Regions from separate parts of the Homo sapiens genome. Here region 1 is linked to region 2. The links come from fine-mapping of genetic effects on gene expression. Tissue or cell type: unexposed skin. Region 2 holds a variant in brackets; the other region holds the start of a gene. All regions are shown on one strand. Distances are between the middles of the regions.

The links. PIP is the estimated chance that this variant, and not a neighbour inherited with it, causes the effect.
Region 1: it holds the start of CFAP251, and the variant in region 2 is fine-mapped to the expression of CFAP251 in unexposed skin (GTEx, PIP above 0.99).

The regions. Positions count from the first base shown.
Region 1 is chr12:121,914,023-121,922,103 of GRCh38, reverse strand. CFAP251 (cilia and flagella associated protein 251) reads right to left here and starts at 3,512. Exons shown (of 22, transcript NM_144668.6): 1 at 3,409-3,512; 2 at 421-818. The coding sequence starts at 798. It overlaps PSMD9 (proteasome 26S subunit, non-ATPase 9), which reads right to left. Exons shown (of 6, transcript NM_002813.7): 5 at 6,160-6,248; 6 at 3,807-5,820. The coding sequence ends at 5,793. RefSeq lists a silencer at 3,234-3,383.
Region 2 is chr12:121,989,094-121,997,193 of GRCh38, reverse strand. The region is part of intron 19 of CFAP251 (cilia and flagella associated protein 251); the gene reads right to left. LOC124903038 (a long non-coding RNA gene) reads left to right here. Exons shown (of 2, transcript XR_007063499.1): 2 at 221-721. Among named protein-coding and RNA genes, the nearest start is that of BCL7A, 29 kb to the left of the region's middle. RefSeq lists a silencer at 1,877-2,171 and enhancers at 4,928-5,027, 6,110-6,159. The variant G/A (reference allele first, on the strand shown) is at 3,815.

The sequences.
Region 1 (8,081 bases), 75 kb after region 2:
ATGGATTGTGGCCGGGCGTGGTGGCGTGTGCCTGTAATCCTAGCACTTTGGGAGGCCAAGGTGGGCAGATCATTTGAGATCATGCATTTGAGACCAGTCTGGCCAACATGGTAAGACCGAAACCCCATCTCTACTGAAAATATAAAACATTAGCTGGGTGTGGTGGTGGATGCCTGTAATCTTAGCTACTCAGGAGACTGAGGCAGGAGAATAGTTTGAACCCAGGAGGCGGAGGTTGCAGCAGGCTGAGATTGTGCCCCTGCACTCCAGCCTGGGCAACAGTGAGACTCTGTCTCAAAAAAAAAAAAAAAGGAATGGATTGTACCTTATTTGGTTTTGTGTTCCCATAGTCTGGCCTATACTAAGCATTCAACTAATGATTCTGAATGAATTGATGAATGAATTAAGATGACTACTTACTGGGAAAATTCCTGATGTGATTGACTGGGAATCAGTAATCTGTGTCTCCAAACGGATCATGGACGCTGTGACTTCTTGGGGCTCTACTGTGGTTTCTTCCTGTATTCCTGAAGCCTCCTTCTCTTGGACTTCTCCAGCCTTTTCCTCAGTTTCTTCCATGACAATCTTTTTGTCCTCCTTCCCCTCCTCCTCCCCTTCCTCCTCGCCCGTTTTCCTCTCCTCCTCCTGAGACTCTCTCCATGCTATTGTGTCATCTTTTGATTCCTGTTGTGGATCTTCTACTTCTTTATAATTTGGATTAGGTTCCTCCTCTTCTTTCATTTCTGTTTCTCCATTTTCTCCTGTTGCTTCTCGGGGAGCTTCTGCTGCATCTGACATTCTTCTCTGTAGAGTTTCCTCTAGAGAGATTTTGACCATAATAACCAGCTGGCCCTCAGCTTCCCATTTCCATCTCCTAGTGCACTAACCTACTGATGAAATGTGCATAAATGGCTCTGTTCCCTTTCCATAGGAATAAAAAGAATGTCATGTTTCTGACCAGGCACGGTGGCTCATGCCTGTAATCCCAGCACTATGGGAGGCCAATGCAGATGGATCACCTGAGGTCAGGAGTTTGAGACCAGCCTGGCCAACATGATGAAACCCCGTTTCTACTAAAAATACAAAAATTAGCTGGGTGTGGTGGCAGGCGCCTGTAATCCCAGCTACTTGGGAGGCTGAGGCAGGAGAATCGCTTGAACCTGGGAGGCAGAGGTTGCAGTGAGCCAAGATCATACCATTGCACTCCAGCCTGGGTAACAAGAGCAAAGTTCTGTCTCAAAAATAAAAACAAAAAAAGAATGTCATATTTCTGGCCAGGCACAGTGGCTCACGCCTGTAATCCCAACACTTTGGGAGGCTGAGGCGGGAGGATCAGTTGAGGTCAGGAGTTTGAGACCAGCCTGGCCAACATGGTGAAACCCCATCTCTACTAAAAATACAAAAAGTTGGCCGGGCGTGGTGGCTCACGCCTGTAATCCCAGCACTTTGGGAGGCTGACGCGGGTGGATCACGAGGTCAGGAGATCGAGACCATCCTGGCTAACACGGTGAAACCCCGTCTCTACTAAAAATACAAAAAATTAGCCGGGCTTGGCGGTGGGCGCCTGTAGTCCCAGCTACTCGGGAGGCTGAGGCAGGAGAATGGTGTGAACCCGGGAGGCGGAGCTTGCAGTGAGCCGAGATCGTGCCACTGCACTCCAGCCTGGGCAACACAGCGAGACTCCGTCTCAAAAAAAAAAAAAAAATACAAAAAGCCTGGTGTGGTGGTGGTGCCTGTAATCTGAGCTACTCAGAAGGCCGAGGCAGGAGAATAGCTTGAATCTGGGAGGCGGAGGTTGCAGCGAGCCAAGATCATGCCACTGCAGTCCAGCCTGGGCAACAGAGCGAGACCCTCTCTCAAAAAAAAAAAAAAAAAAAAAAAGTCACATTTGTGGGAAACCTTTTTTTTTTTTTTCTCTTGAGACAGAGTTTTGTTCTTGTTGCCCAGGCTGGAGTGCAGTGGCACGATCTTGGCTCACTGCAATTACTGCCTCCAGGGTTCAAGCTATTCTCCTGCCTCAGCCTCCCGAGCAGCTGGGATTACAGGCGTCTGCCACCACACCCAGCTAATTTTTGTATTTTTTCAATGGAGGCAGGGTTTCACCATTTTGGCCAGTCTGGTCTTAAACTCCTGACCTCAAGTGATCCGCCCGCCTTGGCTTCCCAAAGTGCTGGGATTACAGGCGTGAGCCATCACGCGCAGCTGGGAAATCTTAAAGTATATGTATTTGTGGCCCAGATCTTAAAAATACTGATCCAGGGCCTGTCAACTTTCTGGGAATAAACACCTTGTAGCCTTTTTACTCATTTAAAATATATTTATATTCCCACAGGCAGCAAAATGCATAACCCACATATTAGCAACAATTCTAGAAACAGGAATACGAGAAGAAGCAGGGTAGCCTAGTGGTTAAAAGCAAGGGCCTTGCTGTCAGCTTGTCCTAGCATTGAATCCCATTTCCACCACGTACTTGCTCTGTGACCTTGGGCAAGTCACTTTACCCCTCAGAGTCTGCATTTTCTCATGGGCAAAATGAAAAGAATAATCCTAAATTCTAGGGTTGTTGTAGAGAAGTGATAACATATATAAAATGCTCATCACAATTCTGGCACATACAGCTTGAAAAAATGGTAGCAGTTGTTATTATTTGAGAGAAAAGCAACCCTAATGTGCAAAGAAATGAACAGTTTGAAAGCCTTCTGGCATATTCTCCATTTATTCCTTACAACAAACAAGAGTTTGAACTAGGAAAACAATAAGGATGGATACTTTATCCCTAAAGAGTTGGACCCCGAACAAAAAAAATCCCTACATTTTCAGTGACATTAGAATAAGAGAACTCAACACTTTGAAAATAAAGTCCCAGAGAGTACAGAGTAGAAAAGGTATTTCTATTTCTTAATTTCTTTCTCAGCACTAAATGTATCAGCTCCTCAAATTCATCTCTGGTAAAAAAAAAATAATAATAATAATAATAAATAAATAATGAATGGATAAATGAGTTTGAGGCTCTGAGAGGTGAAGTGACTTATTCAAGATGACACCGCTAGTAAGAACGAGATTTCTCTGGCACTTAGTTTCTCCAGCTGAAAAATCACTGCTCTGAATCAAGTCTAGGGCTCTCACCACCGAGCCTCTTTTGACTGAGCCCAACTTCGCCGGCGCGTCTGGACAGCCGGGTTCGAGCCGCAGGGGTTTGGGGCAGGGGTGCCAGGTGCGTGGCTCTGCGAGGGGATTAAAGCCCAGGTGCGGCCTCTGCCTCCAACTCAGGTCTCCCTGGGGCCGCCCCAGGCCCCACAAGGGCCAGGTCGGGTGAGCGCCCCCCAAGGGGCACCAGACCCCGCCAGGTCGGGGGCCCCCTCGCCAGGGCCGCGTGGCCTCCGCCCCGGACTTACAGAGAGCACCCACCCCGGTCTTCAAAAGGCCAGAGTCGTCCCGCCGCCTGGACCCCTCAGCCACCTCCCGGGCCTCCTTCCAGCGGCCGCCACCTTCTCCACCAGCTCCCTAGTTCTGGTTGCCACCCAAGCTCCGTCCCCATGGCAACCGCCACCGCCGGAAGCGACAGGCCCTAAAGCGACAGGGCAGGGCGGTGGTCACGTGCCAGGAAACGGTGACGAGCGTGCCCGACGTGCCTCCTGCCGGTCGCTGGCGGCATAGACTTTCCTCGCTTTTCTGTCCTTCCTCCGCTCGCACGATCCCACCTTTTCACATGGTCCCGTCCCCTAAGAAGCTGCAGCGGCCAATACTGCCAATTTTTACTTTCCGCAACCTTGGCAAGATGGGGTGGAGAAGTATGAACTCGGATACAATGCTCTTTTCCAAAAGCAAACTGAATTTCCAGGTCTCATGGATGCAGCACACAACCGTCCTGCCTGCCTCCTCACCGGGCACCGCGTGTTGCAGACAATTCCAGCTGGCTGGGGGCAGATATGACACAGGGTGCACCAGCTTGCGGTTCTCAGCACAAAGCGTTTCCGCAAAACCGGTCTGGCTATATCTATTAGGATCATTCCACGTCAAAGTGGCTCTCCACTAACATCTCATGGAAGACGGCAACAGGTGGCCACACGGGTTTCCACTGGGACCCCTGCAGGAAACCAGCCAGAGCCACTGAGGCAGAAGGCTCTCTGCTGCTGTCATTTTAGGAGAATGTGAATAATTCTCCCCGCCCACACTGCCATGCCCCAGTGATGGTAAATTGATTAATATGCATACATCTTAAAATAAAAAAGAAAGGATAAACTGGGCAAGCTGTGTTTATTATAGTCTGAGACTTTATAAAAGAGACTGGAAAATACGTGGAATTAGAACATGCAATTTAAACAGCAAACATTGGTAAACACAGCATGTCTGTGGCTACCAGAGGGGAATACGTATGGCTGTCAGGTCAAATAGAGTTTGAGGGAATTCGCCCAATAGGAAGGCTTTGGAATTGAGTGTGAGAACCTGTGGCTGGAAGCACACAGCAATACCAATCCCATCAAGGCAAGCTGGTATCTGTATCCAACCACAGCAAAACCAGTCCCAAGGAACACAGGGCTTGCCTGGCAGAACTGCCAAAACAGAAAGCGGTGTGCAAGAACTGGGGAAATGAACACTGATACCATGGAGAGGAAAAAATAATTCAAAGTATTGGCAGGAATCCCTGAGAACCATTTTACCATCTTAAAAGAGACAAAAAATAAAAGGGAGGAAGAATAAGCATTTTCAAGAGGTCTGATCTACTCGTTCCTATCCATACCTCAGCGGTTTACAAAATAGCGCTGATCTCAGGGCATAGCCAGGAGGTTCAATTATAAAAAGTCAAACTAGCAGTGGGCTGGGCGCAGTGGCTCACGCCTGTGATCCCAGCACTTTAGGAGGCCAAGGCAGGAGGACTGCTTGAGCCCAGGAGTTCGAGACCAACCTGGTCAACACAGGGAGACCCTGTCTCTACAAAAAATAAATTAGCTATGCATGGTGGTGCACGCCTGTGGTCCCAGATACTTGGGCGGCTGAGGCAGTGCCCACAGCGTCAAGGCTTCAGTGAACCTTGATCACGACACTGCACTCCAGCCTGGGTGACAAAGCAAGACCTTGTCTCCAGAAAACAAAAACAAAAACACACAAAAACGGAGGGGTTCTTACTAGCGAAGTGAAAGGAGCTTGCTGCCCTCTGGTGGGTTCCTAAAGAGGAAGCTGACAGGACACCACGCTGGGCCACCTGGGAAGCCTCCAGGCTTTCCCTGTTCTCCAAAGGGAGCTACTATGGCCCTGACAGCCCAGCTGCTGAGGAAGCACAGTACTTAACCATTTCCGTATCCACAGCAGCAAGGCCTCAGTGCAAAGAAATATGTTGGTCAAAGCCTGACTTTGCAATTGCTAGCCTGTTTTGCCCAACTTTCTATGAAGCTCTTCTGACCCCATCTGAGCTTTGGTTTGGGAGGGTCATAAGAAATTCAGCTGGGGTGACAACAGGGTCATATCAGCACTGTAAAACTCTTTATTAAAAATAATAATAATAATCACACCAGTACCTGCCAGAATAACTTCCGCCCACTTGCCCACAATCCAGGGAATTCCTATTTAGGGCCGTGGCCTAATTTGTGAAAGAGGCCAAGCCTAAGTTTTTAAGAATGCCTTAATCCAGGGAGATTACACTGGTGGGCCACAGTACTGCCACCACACAGAAGTTCAGGTTACAAGCCTCTTCCAGATCCTTATGCTTCAGGGAGAGAAGACAAGTTGGAAATCCCTAGACCCAAGTCCAGGGCAAGGGAAGATGCTTTCCTGTTACTGTTCCCCAGGGACAATCATCTTTGCAGAGGAATAATGTTGCAGCTGGAAGAAAGAAGAAAAGGAATGGCGTAAGTTTGGAGGCTCCCTTCAGGAAGGTCAGAGGCTGAGCCCTTCTGACCTTTTCACCAATGTTCTTTCATTCTTTTAAAGCAAATGCCTAGTGCATGAATGAACTGGAGAGACTCCCAGGAGAGACTCTGGGGCTCCCTCTGCTTCTAGAGCTGTAGTCTCGTTCCTACCACGAGGATTTATCTGCAGTTTCCATGCAAACTGGGGATTCCCATTATTCCCCAATGTCTCCCCAGCCTTCCCCTCCAGCTTCATGTTTAACAAACACTCAAATGATGCCCCAGTGAGAATGAACAGAAACAGATACTTTACCCCAGCAGTCCTTTTCCTGCCCAGCGTGTTGGAACAAGTCTAAGCTGGTGTTTTTCCCCCCTGCGGATCACTGTCACATTCAGGGGCTTCTGAAAAGAAAATAAGCTCATTTCGTGTTCAGCCTCGTTAGTACTCAGAGATGCAGGCTAAAATGCTGAGATCCCATTTTTTGCCTATCAAATTGGTAAAGATTTACATTTGCAGCATAATCCTGTGGTTGGCGAGAGGGTGGGGAACGTGGCACTGCACTCTCAGGGCAGCCAGGGTGCTGACCTCAGTACCATCTTCCTCAAAAAACACGTGTCCCACCACCAACGATCTTTAAAAGGTACATCCAAGGTACATAGTACACAATTGCAAGATGACATACAAATTACAAGACATACAAATGCCTGTAATCCCAGCACTCTACAAAAAGTATAAAAATTAGCGAGACATACAAATGAAATGTTCATTCCAGGACTGTGTAGAAATTCAAAAACTGAAAACACCAGAAATGTCCATCAATAGGTATTGTTCAAATACAGTACAGAGAATGAAGGGTTTTAGTCAAAACAAACCAAAACCCCACCAAAGTATGAACCTATTTGATAATATTTTCTTTCTTTTTTTTTTTTTTTGAGACACAGTCTCACTCTGTCACCCAGGCTGGAGTGCAGTGGCACAATCTTGGCTCACTGCAACCTCTGCTTCCCAGGTTCTAGCAATTCTCATGCCCCAGCCTCCTGAGTAGCTGGGACTACAGGTGCCCGCCACCACACCCGCCTAATTTTAGTATTTTTAGTAGAGACAGGGTTTCGCCATGTTGGCCAGGCTGGTCTCAGAACTCCTGATCTCAGGTGATCCACCCACCTCAGCCTCCCAAAGTGCTGGGATTACAGGTGTGAGCCACCGTGCCCGGCCGATAATATTTTCTAAAAGGACACCTGTGTTGCTCTAGTGTGCGAAGTTTTCTGGAAGAACATGGAAAAACTTGTTAAGAGTGGTTACTTCCAGAGAGGACTAGTCCTTTGGAAAAAGAAGATGTTTACTTTTATATATTTCCATATCATTAATTTTTTAACCATGCGTATGTATTGCTTTATTTTTCTGAGACAGAGTCTTGCTCTGTTGCCCAGGCTGGAGTGTAGTGGTGCAATCTCAGCTCACCGCAACCTCAGCCTCCTAGGTTCAAGCAATTCTCGTGCCTCAGCCTCCTGAGTAGCTGGGACTACAGGCATGCAGCACCATGCTCAGCTAATGTTTCTGTATATTTAGTAGAGACAGGGTTTCACCATACTGGCCAGCCTGGTCTCAAACTCCTGGGCTCAAGTGATCTGCCCACCTCAGCATCCCAAAGTGCTGGGATTTTGGGCATGTGCCACCACACCTGGCATGTATGTATTACTTTCTTTTTTTTGAGATGGGTTCTCTGTCGCGCAGGCTGGAGTACAGTGGCACAATCTCGGCTCACTGCAACCTCCGCCTCCCCGGTTCAAGCAATTCTCCTGCCTCAGCCTCCTGAGCAACTGGGATTACAGGCACGTGCCACCATGCCCAGATAATTTTTGTATTTTTAATAGAGATGGGGTTTCGCCATGTTGGCCAGGCTGGTCTTGAACTCCTGATCTCAGGTGATCCACCCACCTCAGCCTCCCAAAGTGCTGGGATTACAGGCATGAGCCACCACACCCAGCCTGTATATAGTACTTTAATTTAAAAAATTAAAATTAAAGCAGGGGGAGTACATACCAAAAAAATTACAAATTAAAATACGATATCCAGGCACGGTGGCTCACGCCAGTAATCCCAGCACTTTGGGAGGCAGGAAGATCACTTGAGCCCAGGAGTTGAAGACCAGGCTGGGCATGGTGAAACCCTGACTCTACAAAAAGTATAAAAATTAGCGAGGCATGGTGGTGTGCACCTATAGTCCCAGCTAC
Region 2 (8,100 bases):
CTACCTCCTCGCCCCATGTACTGGCTACTGAATTTTCCATTTGCACCACTTCACTGCTCTATGTGGTTCATCACATGCGCGTGGATCCCTAACACACATGCTTCCTTTTGCTTTAAAGACGCCTTTAAAAGGAGATCATCTTAAACCCAGTCACTTGTTGCTCTCGAGTTGTCACCCGCAGGTTACAGATACTGGCTCATGGCATTTCATTCCCTTTCAGACTTCAGTTGCTTTGATTCATGCATCTGGATGAAGCAAAAAGAAAATGTGACAACTTGTCACTGCAAGAACTTAAAAACACCCTCCAGTGGGGCTGCACCAGGCCACCTCACTTTAGAGTGTGCACAGCTTCCCATCAGAGATAAAAGCTGTGACTCCAGGCTCCTAAATACCTTTTTGATAAGGGCTTTCCTTTTGGCCACCAGCAGATGATCGGGTGATGGTGTTACTACTGCCAACTCCTACAGAGCCCAAGCCCATGAGATCTTTTAGACGTTCATTCTTTGCAGCTTAAAAAAATAATAATTTAAAAAATTTTCCCCTTCTCATTTGGAAAGTTTGTGTATTTTCTAATTTTTCTCGAATGAGAAAAGGGTGCTGACATGCCTAGGTTTAAGTGGAAATGCGGGGCCAGTTAACACAGGACTCCTCACAGGACGCCTTATGTCACTGGCAAAACACGAGGAAGAGAGAAATATAATAAATAAAGAAACAAACAAAACTGTTCCTCACTGCCGTCAGCCTCTCTCTGTGCAGTATTTTTGTACCGTGCATGTAGCAGTCAGCTGAAATGCAGAAACCCCAATTATACCAGTGAAAGGGCTAGGAATTAGTAACTTATTTTAGCATTTACATTTTAACCTAGGATGTTTCCCAATAAACTGTGGGGTTTGGAATTTTACAAAGAAAGAATAAGAGCAACAGAGAAGTGGGAACCAATTTGCTTCCTCTCCTCCCTGCTCCTGCCAAAGAACAGGCATTCTACTTTGGTCTGTGGGAATGAACCAGGAATTTAATCTCTATTTGTACACATTACTTATCAATCGGTAACCAATTTCTCCATGTCCCACTTAAAAAATGTGGAACAAAAATTCAGAGGACACCAGTTTGCAGCACTGCCAAGCTACCAACCTATCTCAAGTACCCTTCACCCTCACATCTTGGTCTGGCCTCAAGTATCAAGAAAAAAATAAAAATCTCTTGTAATCCAACCATCCAATCACAATTTCGGTGAGATTTGGGGCACTTCCTTCCTATTTTTTCTATGCATATAAAATACACATGCATATTTTTTACAAAACTGGTATCATATGTATAATTTTACATCCTGCTTTTTTCCTTTAACGCTGTATCTAAGTAATCACCTAGTAGTTTCAGAGATGCCACATATTCTCAATGCAACATTCCAGGTCAGGCATGGTGGCTCATGCCTATAATCCCAGCACTTTGGGAGGCCAGGGTGGGAGGATGGCTTGAGCTCAGGAGTTTGAGACCAGCCTGGGCAACATAATGAGACCTCATCTCCACTAAAATCTAAAAACAGGTGTGGTGGCAGTCCTAGCTACTGGGGGGCTCATGCAGGAGGATGGCTTGAGCCCAGAAAGCCAAGGCTGCAGTGAGCCCTGATTGTGCCACTGCACTCCAGCTTGGGCCAGAGTGAGAACCTGTCTCAAAAAAAAAAGGCAAGATTCCAGGAATGTTGAAATAACATTATTGGTTACAGATACAAATTAACTGTAATTGATACATAATTGATATTATAAAAGTAGCTGTAAATGGTAACACTGTTTCATATACAGCATTTACTGAGTTTATACTATGTACAATTGCTTGTTAAATCATGTATAATTTTATGTAGGAAAAAACACTATCCAGTAGCAATTATTTGCATATTGCACTATATAATTTTGACAGTATTACTACATAGGAATGCTACTATTTACCATGAGGCAGTAGAGGTTGGGGCTAAAAGAGCAATCTTTGATGATAGACCTAGGTTCAAACTCTGGCTCTGCCATTTTCTGTCTATATGACCTTGAGTGAGTTACTCACATTCCTTCTCCTCAGTTTCCTCATCTTGAAAAAGCAGGGAATACAGTAATACGTATGCATTGGGCTTTTCTGAAGCTTATTGAGACTATGTACGTAAAGTGCTTAACATAATGCCTAACACATAGCAAGCATTCAACAGACAGTAATTATTCTTGTGATTATTATTTTTTTTTTAATTTATTTTTTTATTGATAATTCTTGGGTGTTTCTCACAGAGGGGGATTTGGCAGGGTCATGGGACAATAGTGGAGGGAAGGTCAGCAGATAAACAAGTGAACAAAGGTCTCTGGTTTTCCTAGGCAGAGGACCCTGCGGCCTTCCGCAGTGTTTGTGTCCCTGATTACTTGAGATTAGGGATTGGTGATGACTCTTAACGAGCATGCTGCCTTCAAGCATCTGTTTAACAAAGCACATCTTGCACCGCCCTTAATCCATTTAACCCTGAGTGGACACAGCACATGTTTCAGAGAGCACAGGGTTGGGGGTAAGGTCACAGATCAACAGGATCCCAAGGCAGAGGAATTTTTCTTAGTGCAGAACAAAATGAAAAGTCTCCCATGTCTACTTCTTTCTACACAGACACGGCAACCATCCGATTTCTCAATCTTTTCCCCACCTTTCCCGCCTTTCTATTCCACAAAGCCGCCATTGTCATCCTGGCCCGTTCTCAATGAGCTGTTGGGCACACGTCCCAGACGGGGTGGTGGCCGGGCAGAGGGGCTCCTCACTTCCCAGTAGGGGCGGCCGGGCAGAGGCGCCCCTCACCTCCCGGACGGGGCGGCTGGCCGGGCAGGGGGGCTGACCCCCCCCACCTCCCTCCCGGACGGGGCGGCTGGCCGAGCGGGGGGGCTGACCCCCCCACCTCCCTCCCGGACGGGGCGGCTGGCCGGGCAGAGGGGCTCCTCACTTCCCAGTAGGGGCGGCCGGGCAGAGGCGCCCCTCACCTCCCGGACGGGGCGGCTGGCCGGGCGGGGGGGCTGACCCCCCCCACCTCCCTCCCGGACGGGGCGGCTGGCCGGGCAGAGGGGCTCCTCACTTCCCAGTAGGGGCCGCCGGGCAGAGGCGCCCCTCACCTCCCGGATGGGGCGGCTGGCCAGGCGGGGGGGCTGACCCCCCCCCCACCTCCCTCCCGGACGGGGCGGCTGGCCGGGCGGGGGGCTGACCCCCCCACCTCCCTCCCGGACGGGGTGCTGGCCGGGCAGAGGGGCTCCTCACTTCCCAGTAGGGGCGGCCGGGCAGAGGCGCCCCTCACCTCCCGGACGGGGCGGCTGGCCGGGCGGGGGGGCTGACCCCCCCCACCTCCCTCCCGGACGGGGCGGCTGGCCGGGCGGGGGGCTGACCCCCCCACCTCCCTCCCGGACGGGGTGCTGGCCGGGCAGAGGGGCTCCTCACTTCTCAGACGGGGTGGTTGCCAGGCAGAGGGTCTCCTCACTTCTCAGACGGGGCGGCCGGGCAGAGACGCTCCTCACCTCCCAGACGGGGTCTCGGCCGGGCAGAGGCACTCCTCACATCCCAGATGGGGCGGCGGGGCAGAGGCGCTCCCCACATCTCAGACGATGGGCGGCCGGGCAGAGACGCTCCTCACTTCCTAGATGTGATGGCGGCTGGGAAGAGGCGCTCCTCACTTCCTAGATGGGATGGCGGCCGGGTGGAGACGCTCCTCACTTTCCAGACTGGGCAGCCAGGCAGAGGGGCTCCTCACATCCCCGACGATGGGCGGCCAGGCAGAGACACTCCTCACTTCCCAGACGGGGTGGCGGCC[G/A]GGCAGAGGCTGCAATCTCGGCACTTTGGGAGGCCAAGGCAGGCGGCTGGGAGGTGTAGGTTGTAGTGAGCCGAGATCACGCCACTGCACTCCAGCCTGGGCACCATTGAGCACTGAGTGAACGAGACTCCGTCTGCAATCCCGGCACCTCGGGAGGCCGAGGTTGGCGGATCACTCGCGGTTAGGGGCTGGAGACCGGCCCGGCCAACACAGCGAAACCCGGTCTCCACCAAAACCAGTCAGGCGTGGCGGCGCGTGCCTGCAATCGCAGGCACTCGGCAGGCTGAGGCAGGAGAATCAGGCAGGGAGGTTGCAGTGAGCCGAGATGGCAGCAGTACAGTCCAGCTTCGGCTCCGCATGAGAGGGAGACCGTGGGGAGAGGGAGAGGGAGAGGGAGACGGAGAGGGAGAGGGAGTGGGAGAGGGAGAGGGAGAGCTCTTGTGATTATATTTTTCTATGCACTTGCTAATTACAATACATGTAATCATAACATAAGATAAATTATAATTTGGCTGGGTGGGGTGGCTTACGCCTGTAATCCCAGCACTTTAGGAGGCTGGAGTGGGTAGATCGTTTTAGGAGCTTGAGACAGCCTGGGCTGTGAAATCCTGTCTCTACAAAAAAGACAACAAATTAGCTTGGCGTGGTGGCGCATGTGCCTGTAGTCCCAGCTACTTGGGAGGCTGAGATGGGAGGATCACCTGAGCCCGGGAGGTGGAGGCTGCACTGAGCCGTGATTGTGCCACTGCACTCCAGCCTGGGCAACAGGAGTGAGGAGTAAGACCCTGTCTGAAAAAGAAAAAAAAAAGAAATAATATATATAAATATATATAAATTACCAATGTAATATATGATTTAACTCAGTTCAGAACAGGAGACTAAGACGACAAAAGGAATTCATAAGGGCCTGAGTTACTCATACCCAGAGAGTTCCAAAGAGCTCAGCAAACATTCACAGCACAAACCACTCAGCATGTGATTCACCTCTTACTCTCTCTTCCCGTATGACTGATCAAGAATCACTACTCAACAAGCACGGAGTTGGCAGCTTCGGCATCACTGACATTTCCTTCCTGAGCCGACTTCGCAAGTGTTCGTTGAAAAGGCAGGTTCTGCTACTTGTCTGAACAAAGTTCATGCTTGGGAGAGGAACCTCGGAGCTGGAAATAGAACGCAGAGCTTGTTCTGAACGCCCCCGTGTGAAGATGGCTTGAGAGAAGCAGGAGTCCTAGCTGAGCGGCCCAGACGCACTGGTGGTTGTCAGTCAGCCTGGCCTTTGATTGGCATTCTCACGCCTGCTAAGGCGGGGCTTTATTCCATTCACCTGGAGAGCTTAAACAGTTCTGAGGCCCAGATCCTATTCCCTGAGAACCTGATTTTTTTTTTTAGATGATAGTCTCACTCTGTCGCCCAGGCAGGAGTCCAGTGGCGTGATCTCGGATCACAGCAACCTCCACCTCCTGAGTCCAACCAATTCTCCTGCCTCAGCCTCCCAAGTAGCTGGGACTACAGGCGCGCGCCACCACAGCTGGCTAATTTTTGTATTTTTAGTAGCAACAGGGTTCCTACTGTTGGCCAGGCTGGTCTCAAACTCTTGACTTCAAGTGATCTGCCTGCCTCGGCCTCCCAAATTGCTGGGATTACAGGAATGAGCCACCACAACCAGCTGAGATCCTGATTTAATTGGTCTGGGGACCAAATTTTTGGAAGCTTCTCATTCGAATGATTTGAATGCGTAGCCAAGCTTGAGAAACATGGCTGGAAGGCAAAGGCTCGCTGACATGTCAGGCTTCACAATGACCGGGAGGTCTTGTTCAAACAGACTGCTGGTCCCACCTGGGGGGTTTCTGAGTCTGGGATAGGGTCTGACCATTTGCATTTCTTGTAAGTCCCTAGGTCACGTGAAGTCAATCCTGTTGGTCTGGGGACCACACTTTGAATACTGCTGCTCTTAGACCACAGGGGTTCACGGAGGTGATACTGGTGCCAAAATGAATCAGCCCCAAGCTTGTGACTTTCAGTAGAGAGTAATAATGGGTGGCAGCTGCGGTGCACGCTCTAATTCTTTGGGCTCACATCTGTTTTCCCCATTAAGCTGTAGCCAGAGCTTTCATCTCTATTTCCCCGGCAGCTTAGTTCAGAGCCTGGCACATTATAGAGGCTCAGAGAAATGTTTACTGAATGGATAGATAGATGGATGAATGGATGAATGAATGAATGATGAAGTAAATAATGTGGACACAAGTGAGGCCACAAAAAGAATTCTCTTGAAACTCACAAGAAGCTTAGAATAATCATTTAGTGCCCTAGTTAATTTTACTCGATTTACTAGTAGTTACTGAGCATTTGGTTTAGTGCAAAGCCAATGAAATACAAGTCTCTCAATTATTACTAGAACAGTTCTGCATTCTGGTTTTCAATCTTAGTCACTGGGGTCAGCAAATATTTATTCAGTGTCTATTAAGGTCTGGGCCATGTGAAGAGATGCTCAAGAGACGATATACACAAGGAAAGCGAACTAACAGGCTCCATCGCCAAGGTCCTCAGCCCTGGCTGCCTGGGGCTTTAAAAACTGTCCATGCTTAGACTCCACCCCTAGGTTCTGTTGCACAAGGCTGGGGCCCAGGTGTAAAAATCAGGTGTAAAAATACTGATGTATTTTTTTAAGTGCCCTCAACTGATTTTAAAAGGTTGGCTACCGTGGCTCTAGAAGATTCAGTGCCAAGATGCAGGAGAACATCATCAAAGGTTGGAGGAGCTCTCAGCCAGGTGGGCTTCGGGAAGGCTTCCTGGAAGAGGTGGGCCTACTGCAGAGCCATGAAGGGTTTGGCCAGTAGGAGGTCAGAGGAAGACACTGTATGCTGGGAAACAAGCATGAGGAGGAGGGTGCAGAGGAGGTGCCCACCCCGAGCCCATGCACCCAATTCTAGACCACACTCTGGGTACCTGAACCCGAGGCTTCTCTCCCCTACATAACCTAAGCCCACTTCCGGGGCCCATGGGGATCTCACCCTCCTGAGGCCAACCTGTGCCCCTGGTGTTGCCCACCCATAGGCCTGAAGGGTGCCCCGGGGCTGCTGTTTGGAGAGTATAGAGAAGGGTCCACCTCCTGAATGCCATGCACACAGTGGCCAGGGATGGGGTCAGAGCTGGGAGGACACATGGGGCAGGCCCAGCTTGGCTTGGCCCTGCATGCTGCCCATTCGGGTGTGAACTTTGAATCAGCTCATGTTGAAGGTTGAACTGTCAAGGGGGAATATTTATTTATCAGCTTGTTGCTTGATTGGTAACTTTTAAACATTTAGACATACAGCATCTGGGCCTCTGTTGCCCCGACTGCTCCAGGCCCCAAGACATGAGGGTGGCCTCTTGGTGGTGGGCTGGAGTCCCCTCACCCGAGAGCATCTTATTTCTGCCTCTGTCATTGATGACGCAGGCCTTTGGGTCTGTGATCCCTGCTGTCAGCCTCAGGAAGCCATTGATGTCCTTAGAATTATGTTCTATAATTAAGTTTTACAACCTCCCTATTAAATGGAGAGGAACACGATATATTTGAACTGGGGCCATTCCTTGTTTTTATAAGCAGGCTCCTGGTGGGGGCAGGTTTGCTTTTCTAATGGTTTCATGGACCAGTAGGACTGGGAGCACTCACCCTCTTCCCCACGCCCTCTTCCCAACGCACAATACCCTCTAGAACATTCTCAACTAATGGGGCACAGTGTCTTGTTCCCACTCATCATCTTCACTCATACCCTCCCCTGGTCACCCCCTGCATCTCCTCGCTGACCCGGGGCAGGGAGTAGTGGGCTGAGGAGGGGGCGTAAGGGCTGGGCAGCGTCACTGCATGGCCACATCTGGAGACCCCTGTGAGCGCCCCCTCTGCGATTCATGCAACACTGTGACCCCAACTGCTCCATACCTCCCTCCAGGAACTAGATCTGGATGGCGACTGCCTCTTTTTCCAGGAGTGGGGCATGCATGCACAGTTCTGCCCTCTGGACGCAGTCTCAGGTGACAGCAGCCAAGGCCTGGCCTGGTGCTCTTGCCCACTGTCTTCTACTCCATGTGAACAACACCCATTCACAGGGCCCTTTAGAGTGACTGTCACCCTGCCCTGCATCAGAGCCCAGGTCTCAAACACCTCCAGGGACTCTTCCCTTCCCAGTGAATGTTTTCAAAGGTCTGAAAGAGACAGTCCTAGCTGAATGACAAGTCTTGCACCTTGTACCAAACCCACAATCAAGGATTTGCTAATTCTGTGTCCACAGCTCTCTAAAATCCTGATC